Linked DNA regions of Homo sapiens: region 1 is linked to region 2. The links come from fine-mapping of genetic effects on gene expression. A gene starts in region 2. The other region holds a variant in brackets. All regions are shown on one strand. Distances are from middle to middle.

The links. PIP is the estimated chance that this variant, and not a neighbour inherited with it, causes the effect.
Region 1: its variant is the best candidate, but not a certain one, in a credible set for the expression of BMP1 in monocytes after LPS (Fairfax 2014, PIP 0.67).

Annotation. Positions count from the first base shown.
Region 1 is chr8:22,236,432-22,240,813 of GRCh38, reverse strand. No RefSeq gene overlaps it. Among named protein-coding and RNA genes, the nearest start is that of MIR320A, 6.4 kb to the left of the region's middle. RefSeq lists a silencer at 3,184-3,478. The variant TA/A (reference allele first, on the strand shown) is at 2,717.
Region 2 is chr8:22,162,985-22,167,366 of GRCh38, reverse strand. It overlaps BMP1 (bone morphogenetic protein 1), which reads right to left and starts at 1,995. Exons shown (of 20, transcript NM_006129.5): 1 at 1,814-1,995. The coding sequence starts at 1,961. SFTPC (surfactant protein C) reads right to left here. Exons shown (of 6, transcript NM_001317778.2): 3 at 4,165-4,287; 4 at 3,821-3,931; 5 at 3,308-3,466; 6 at 2,888-3,101. The coding sequence ends at 3,326. RefSeq lists a silencer at 1,700-2,739.

The DNA.
Region 1 (4,382 bases), 73 kb before region 2:
CAGGATGGTCTAGATCTCCTGACCTTGTGATCCGCCCGCCTTGGCCTCCCAAAGTGCTGGGATTATGGGCATGAGCCACCACGCCTGGCTTATTTTGTATTTTTAAAAATACACTCATTCATTTTAGAAAATTTGGAAAAATTTAAAAAGCACTGAGAAGAAAAAGCTATCCATTGTTATCCCATCAAATGTTTTTGTTTTTGTTTTTTGTTTTTGTTTTTTTTTTTTTTGAGACGGAGTCTCGCTCTGTCGCCCAGGCTGGAGTGCAGTGGCACGATCTCGGCTCACTGCAAGCTCCGCCTCCCGGGTTCACGCCATTCTCCTGCCTCAGCCTCCCGAGCAGCTGGGACTACAGGCACCCGCCACCACGCCCGGCTAATTTTTTGCATTTTTAGTAGAGACGGGGTTTCACCGTGTTAGCCAGGATGGTCTCGATCTCCTGACCTCGTGATCCGCCCGCCTCGGCCTCCCAAAGTGCTGGGATTACAGGCGCGAGCCACCGCGCCCGGCCCAAATGTTTTACATACTTGAAGTCATTTTTCAATGCATTTAGATTTTTTTAAATTGGGATATTTTACACAGGTTCTTTTAATATTTTTATCTATCCATTTATTTTGAGACCAGGTTTTGAGACTGGCTAATTTTTCTACTTTTGGTAGAGTCAGGGTTTTGCCATGTTTCCCAGGCTGGTCTTGAACTCCTGGGCTCAATCGATCTGCCCGCCTCAAACTCCCAAAGTGCTGGGATTACAGGCGTGAGCCACTGTGCCCAACTGAGCTTAGTTTGTTATTAATAACATTTTATTTTCATAAATATCATAATAAAGACAATAATCTCATTGTAACTTAATAATCAAACTCTTGAGGACAAATACAGTTTTCTGGGTCTAAATGCAGGTTTTAGAAGGTATAACAGATTCTGTCAAAAATCTGTTCTTGTGAATTTTTTTTTTTTTTTTTGAGACAGAGTCTTGCTCTGTTGCCCAGGCTGTAGTGCAATGGCACGATCTCCACTCACTGCAACCTCTGCCTCCCGGGTTCAAGCGATTCTCCTGCCTCAGCCTCCTGAGTAGCTGGGATTAGAGGTGCGCGCCACTATGCCTGGCTAATTTTTGTATTTTTAGTAGAGATGGGGTTTCACCACGTTGGCCAGGCTAATCTTGAACTCCTGACCACAGGCGATCCACCCGCCTCAGCCTCCCAAAGTGCGGGGATTACAGGCATGAGCCACCACGTCCGGCCTTTTTTTTTTTTTTCCTGAAACAGAGTCTTGCTCTGTTGTCCAGGCTGGAGTACAGTGGCTATTCACAGCTACAATCATAGCTCACTGCAGCCTGCAACTCCTGGGCTCAAGGGATCCTCGTGCCTCAGCCTCCAGTGTAGCTGGGACTACAGGTGTGCACCACCATACCCAACTAATTTTTAATTATTTTGTAGAGATGGAATCTCACTATGTTGCTCAAGCTGGTCTCAAACTCCTGGGTTCAAGCGATCTGCCCCCTTCGGGCATCCCAAAGTGTTGGAACTACAGGCATGAGCCATGGCGCCCGGCCTCCTGTGAATTCTTCATGGGCATTGAAAATGAATAAGAAACTGTTTTGCATATGTATTGGTAGAGTAAAAGGAATGTGAGGTATGAGAACGCTATCCAAGTTCAAGCTATTACATGTTCTCTGTGTAATTTGTCCTTGTTTATTTGCATCATTTTGCAGGCCATTCATTTGCTGGTTCCTCCTTATCGCCTTGACCCTTACATGTTAGAGAACTCCAGAATTCTGTCCTTGGGGCCAGGCACGGTGGCTCAGGCCTGTAATTCCAGCACTTTGGGAGGCCGAGGTGGGCGGATCACGAGGTCAGGAGCTCGAGACCATCCTGGCCAACAGGTTGAAACCCCATCTCTAGTAAAATACAAAAAATTAGCCGTGTGTGGTCGTGTGCACTTACAGTCCCAGCTACTTGTGAGGCTGAGGCAGGGAATCGCTTGAACCAGGGAGGCAGAGGTTGCAGTGAGCCAAGATTGTGCCATTGCACTCCAGCCTGGGCAACAAGAGCAAGACTCCATCTCAGAAAAAAAAAAAAAGAATTCTGTCCTTGGAATTCTTTCCTATTTTCTCTATACTAACTCCCATGACAATGGTTCAGTTTCTCAGCTTCAAGTATACTGTATGCTGATCACTCCTAAGGGCTCACCTCCAGTCCAGTGCTCCCTGAATTCCTGATGTGTCTCTGCCTATTCCACACCTCCAGCTGGATGTCTGCTGGGCATCTCGAAACCTATGTGCCCATCCAAACTTTTTTTTTTTTTTTTTGAGACAGGGTCTTGCCCTGTCGCTCAGGCTGGAGTGCAGTGACGTGATTTCCGCTCACTGCAACCTCCGCCTCCCAGGTTCAAGCAATTCTCCTGCCTCTGCCTCCTGAGTAGCTGGGATTACAGGCACCTGCCACCACGCCCAGCTAATTTTTGTATTTTTAGTAGAGACCGGGTTTCACCGTGTTGGCCAGGCTGGTCTCGAACTCCTGACCTCAAGTGATCCATCTGCCTCGACCTCCTAAAGTTTTGGGATTACTGGTGTGAGCCACTGCACCTGGCCATATCCACACTTTTTTGATCTTGCTCCTCAAACTACTTCTCCAAAGTGGTCCCCATCTCAGTAAATGGTAACTGCATCCTACTAGTTGTTCAGATTAAAAATCTTGCAGGTTTTTTTTTTTTTTTT[TA/A]TGAGACAGGATCTTTCTTATTCTGTCACCCAGGCTGGAGTGCAGTGGCATGATCTCGGCTCACTGCAGCCTCAACCTCCCGGGCTCAAGTGATCCTCCCACCTCAGCCTCTCAGGTAGCTGGGACTATAGGCATGCCGCACCATGCCTGGCTAATTTTTTTTATTTTTTGTAGAGTTGGAGTTTCACCATGTTGCCCAGGCTAGTCTTGAGCTCCTGAGTCTCAAGTGATCTGCCCACCTCAGCCTCCCAAAGTGCTGAGATTACAGGCTTGAGCCACTGCACCCAGCCTTGCGACTCTTGACTCCTCTCTCCCATGCACTACTTCTAACATATCAGCTTTTTGACATACATCCGGGATCTTCCCACTTCTCACCACCTTGGTCCAGGCCACCATCATTTATTGCTGATTATTATAATTGACTCCTAATTGGCCTCCTTCCACCTGAATCCTCCAAGTCTAGTCTCCACATAGTGCAACTGACATGTTTCACGTTAGGTCACATCTCTGCTCTAAACTTCCCAATGGCTTCCCATTTCAGAGTCAAAATCAGAGGCCTTAGAACGCCCTGCGCCACGGCCCTGCACAATCTCTCCCTGCACCATTTCTCTAGTCTCAACTCCTTGCACACTGGCTCCCCCTGCTGTTTCTGGACTATATCAGGCAACATCCTGCTTCAGGGCCCCTGCACCTGTTACCTGGAATGCCCTTCCTCCACAAAATTCTGCATGGCTCCCGTCCATCCTTTAATCAGGTGTTTTTTGTTTTGTTTTGTTTTGTTTTGTTGTGTACCAAAGTCACCTTTTCAAAAAGTCCTCCTCTGATGGCCCTATTTAAAATCATAACTCCCGACTTCTCCATGATGTTTCCTATCTCTACTTACCGACTTATTTTTCTCTAGAGCATTTATCACCACCCAACAGACTATAAAGTTTGTTTATTTATTCACTTACCTATTTAATTATCTGTCTTCCCCCACCAGAATGTAAGCCCTATGAGAGCAGGGATTTTTTGTTTGTTTGTTTGTTCTCCTTTCCCTGCCTACAACTGCAGGATCCTCATTGCCTGAAACAGTGCCTGATACATAGATAAGCACTCAGTGAATTTTTTTAAATGGATGATTGAATTCCAATTTGTGATGAGATCAACTAGAAAATCTGGATGTGCATTAGAAAAATGAGTAGATTGTTTCCAGAAGGTAATTGAATTTTGGCACCATTGATGTCAAAGCCATCTGTGAGTTGTATTTTCATGTCTTCTCTATAGGTTCTTCTGTCAGTGACTCTTAATAGAGTCAGTGTGGCAAATTTTGGGTGCATGGAGGGAAGGCGCTTCATCATGGTGATCGCTTGTATTCAATATGTCACACTCTTCTGGTATTTCTTTCTTTTTCTTTTTCTTTTTTTTCTTTTTGGCAGTCTTGCTCTGTTGCTAAGGCTAGAGTTCAGGGACACGATCTTGGCTCACTGCAACCTCCACCTCCCGGGATCAAGTGATTCTCCTGCCTCAGCCTCCTGAGTAGCTGTGACTACAGGCGTGCGCCACCACGCCTGGCTACTTTTTGTATTTTTAGTAGACACAGGGTTTTGCCATGCTGGCCAGGCTGGTCTCGAACTCCTACCTCAGACGATTCGGCTGCCTCAACCTCCCTAAGTCCTGAGATTA
Region 2 (4,382 bases):
ATGTGGCACTCAGTGTGGCTTGGTTTGTGCTATTGGTTATGTCTGTAGGTGTCTTGGGTCCCTACTGGACTGTAAGCTCCTTGAAGGCAGGGTCCTAGCTTGTACGTCTCAGTACCTCCCACAACATCCATTCCAGGCCCTAGCACATATTAGGTATTGATGGATTGATGGATAAGAGGCACAAGGAGACACCAGCAATCCCACACCTCTCAAAAAAATGAAGTGACAGTCTGAGGCACAGAAAACAGGGAGTAGGGAGCCCACATTTATTTAGCGCTGACTGTGTGTTAAGCACTATTAAGTGTTTTATGTATGTTTTCATATTTAACCCTTACCACCAACTCTATGGGAAGATGCATGATCAGTTCCATTTTACAGGTGTGAAAGTGGCAGTTCAGACATGATCATTACCATTCTGAGGTGGTACAGCTATAATGAGTAGCAGGGTCAGGATTGAAAGCTAGATGTGCCTGCCTTCAAAGTCCATGCGCAGTCCACTCTGCCCTGTACCCACTCCCAGCCCCCAGCGAGAAAAATGACAGCAAATGTCCTGGTTTACCCGCAGCCCAGCAGGTGTAGAGGGGTAAGGGCTGAGGGATTTGCCCTGATTTCCTCCATTGGATGGTCTCTTATTCCTGCCTGTGGGCCACCCTCCCAGGAGAGTCCCTGAACAGGGTCTCCAGAGCCAGGACTAGAGCAACCTGCCCCTCCGCCCCTGGTGCCCCACACAGGCAGTCCAGTTCTAGCAACTATGCCACTTCCCCTGGCTCTGGCTATTTGGAGATGAGCTGAAGTCAGAGAGGCAGGAAGTCAAGGAAAAGTTCTGATATCTTGTCCCTGTGTGTCCCCAAACAGCCTGCCCAGGGTCATCCAATCAGGCAAATGGCCCGAGTGCCTGGCCATCTGGTCACTCCAGGGGCAGGACCCTTCTGGGCTCAGCAGGAGTGATGGGGTTACATAGAGTCTTCAGAGACAAAGAACACACACACATACAGGCAAACACACACTCCGGGGTCCTGACCTCAGCTAATTAGCCTCTGGTGTCTCGGGGGTGACAGAGCTGATATACAATATCTGGGTTCTCTTTGTATTTTCCCTCTTTCCACCCCAACTTGGCCTTGGCGGGGGTCTCTGGGCACATAGGGACAAAGTTAAGTCCCCCTTCTGGGTTGGCTTCTCTGACTTTGACAGCTGTCTCCTAAGTCCCAGAAAGCTTCAGCTACTGGTTAAACTACGGGATACCCAGAGAGCACGATCTCAGGGAATCCCTGGAAAAACTTTCTTCTTCCACTTGGGCTGGGTGGTGGCTGGGGGACCTGCTCCTTGGAGACTCAGGCCTCCCAGATCCAAGCCAGACAGATGTGCAGCCCCAGGGCAGCCCAGACAGGCTGGAAAACACCCAGCTCCTGGAGCAGGAGAGATGGGGGAGAAGGGGAAAGAACACACACACACACACACACACACACACACACACACACACACACGCACGCACAGGAGTTTGGCCAGAAAAGTTTCCTACAGAAGGAAAAGCCGCCTTGCCCGCCGGTTTTCCCGGGACGCAAGGAGACTTCCTCTGGAATCCTCTGGGAAGATGAGAGGCAGCGGCAGCAGCTTCCACCAACAGCGGCAAAACTTCAGTCCGAAAAGTCCCCCAAATCCCCCTCCCTCTCCCCCTCGTTCTTTTGTTCCCCACTGCATTGCCAACCAGGCAGCTCCCGGCTTCCCACACTGGACTGTCCTCCCCCAACCCCAAGCCCGAACCCGCCCGCGCCTCCCCGCCTGGCCCGTCGCCGGGGGGCCGGGGGGCGCTCACCCGCCTTGCAGGGGTCTTTGTAGTTGAGGGGCTCCGAGTCGTCCTCCTCCGCCAGGTCATAGGTGTAGTCGGCCAAGTCCAGCGGCCGGCCGGGACGCGGGAGCAGCAGCAGCCCGAGCAGCAGCGGCAGGCGGGCCACGCCGGGCATGCTGGCGGGGCGGCGGCGAGGGAAGCGGCGCACTGGAGGCCAGGGGAGGGCGTCCTCTCGCCCGCTTGCTTGCTCGATCGCGACCGCGACCGCTCCCGCCCTCGCTCCCCGACCTCTTCCCCTTCCCTCTGCTCGCCTCCCTCCTTCCTGTCTCCCGCCCCCCGCTCGGTCCGCGGCTCCGCGCTCGTCCTCGGGCTCCAGCCGTCTCCCTCTCCCTTTCCTTCTTTTTCTCTCTTTCTTTCTCTCCCTCCCTCCCTCCCTCCGACTCCCCCCCCCCTTTTTAGGGAAATGAGCTCGCTGGAGGGCGGGTTTTCGCCCGAGCTCTGCCCCCCTCGGGGCCGGGACAGTGCTCGGCCGGGCCGGGCCGCGCGCCAGCCGGGGCGGGGAAGGCGGAGAGCCGCGCGCCCGGGGAGGGGGCTCGGGCCGCCCGGGCCGCGGGCCGCGGGCCGCGAGGCCGGGGCTGGAGCTCGGGCCCCGGGGTGCCGGGAGGGCTGTCCCTCCTGAAGTGCCCTCTAGCGGCGGCCTCCCCCGCGGGCGCGCGGCCGAGCCCCCGCCCCGCCGCGGGACACGCTGTCAGGTCCTCGCGCCGCCCCTGCCCCGCGCCCCCGCCTCGGGTCGGTCTCTCCGCCCGCGTCTCCCTATCTCCCCTTCTTGGACCCTCGCTCTCTCGCGTCTCGCTCTCTGCGCTCTGTCTCTCTCGCTGTCTTGGTGTCTCTCCCTCCTCCGGAGACGCCGCTGGAGGGCGCCGAAAGCCCGTGGATGGCTCCCTGCGAGCCCCTCTCCCCCGCCGAGGTGGACCCAGTGCCCCAGCGCCCTGGGACAGAGGGCGAATGGCAAACCCCACTTTGCTCTCCCAAGGCCCTTCCCTTCTTGGCCGGCCCCCGCCAGGGCAGGACTGCGCCCTGCAGGAAGACAGAAGCAGACCCTTTGCTTTTCAATCAGGCTGCTTTATTCTGTTGTGGCAGGAGTTCCCGGGCCCCTGGGCGCCACCTCTGCCCACTCCCATCCTCTCCCCAAGCTCCCATTTCTCCAGGGCTTGTCCCTGCGGTGTGGGCAGAAGCAGCTTCTTGCCCGTCTGCAAAAGCTGCAAAAGACCCTTTGCCCGGGGCGTTTCCTTTCCCGTTGGGGCTTCCACTGACCCTGTGAAGCAAAGGAATGTTGAGGATGGACAGAGAGAATCAGGGGAGTGGGAAGTACCGGTCTGTGAGCTTCCCCTCCCCCGAGTTGCCTGGATGACCCCGCTTCAGTGGACGCCCCAGCGCCTGGTCAGCGCGAGCGCTCCTCCACAGCCCGGGCAGGTGGCCCGAGCGCTCCTCCGCTGCTGATCAGGGGCCCTGGGATCACACCTGCTCACCGGAGGCGTCCTAGATGTAGTAGAGCGGCACCTCGCCACACAGGGTGCTCACGGCCATGCCCAGGAAGGCCGGGTCCCCTCCGGAGGGTGCTGAGCCTGCATCTCGCCCCTCTGCCTGGCCCAGCTTAGACGTAGGCACTGCGGGCTTGGCCTGCAGAGAGCATTCCATCTGGAATGTAGGAAGTGAGTTTCTATCCCATGTGCAGCCCTTATTGTGGGACTTCAGGTATATCAGGCAATCTCTCTGAGCCTCAGTTTTCTCATCAGTAAAGAGGGGCTGTGCTAGAGTCAGAAGCCACCAGGTAGTGAGTGGACTCAGCTGAGCCCAGCAGCTTGGCAGTGGGGTGGGAAGGAAAGGAGTCGTGCAGGGGAATAGGAGAGGGGCAGTCAGCTGGCAGCCAATGAGGAACAGTGCTTTACAGGTGACAAATAGCCACCATTCGGACACTCCTCCCAGCAGCCCTGGGAGGGAGACAGCCCACTCTTTTCACCCACACACACACACCTGGAAGTTGTGGACTTTTCTAGTGAGAGCCTCAAGACTGGGGATGCTCTCTGGAGCTATCTTCATGATGTAGCAGCAGGTGCCAGGGGCTGGCTTGTAGGCGATCAGCAGCTAGGCACAGAATGCTGGAGATCATTCGGGGGTCCCTGCCCTGCTCTCTCCCTGACCCAGGTCCTTAGCCACCTCCCTCTAGGTTGGGCACGGGAGTCATACTAGAATCTGGGGCTCAGGCAAAAAAGGTCTGGAGGAGAGGGAGAGATGGATGTGGATGAAGTGGCCCAGCTGGGTGGCTCTAGCAGAGCCTTGTCATTGGTCCCAGGGTCAGGAGGTCTGGGCATACCCACCTGCTGGTAGTCATACACCACGAGGCCAGTGGAGCCGATGGAGAAGGTGGCAGTGGTAACCAGGTGCTCACTCAGGGCCAGGCGTTGCTGGGCTTCCGGCGCCCCAATGCTCATCTCCAGAACCTGGGGAAAGGGCATGGAGCCACCTGGTCTTCCCCTTTCCTACTCAGCCAGTGGTACCCATCCCCATACTCAGGCCTCTGTACTCAAATGCGCTT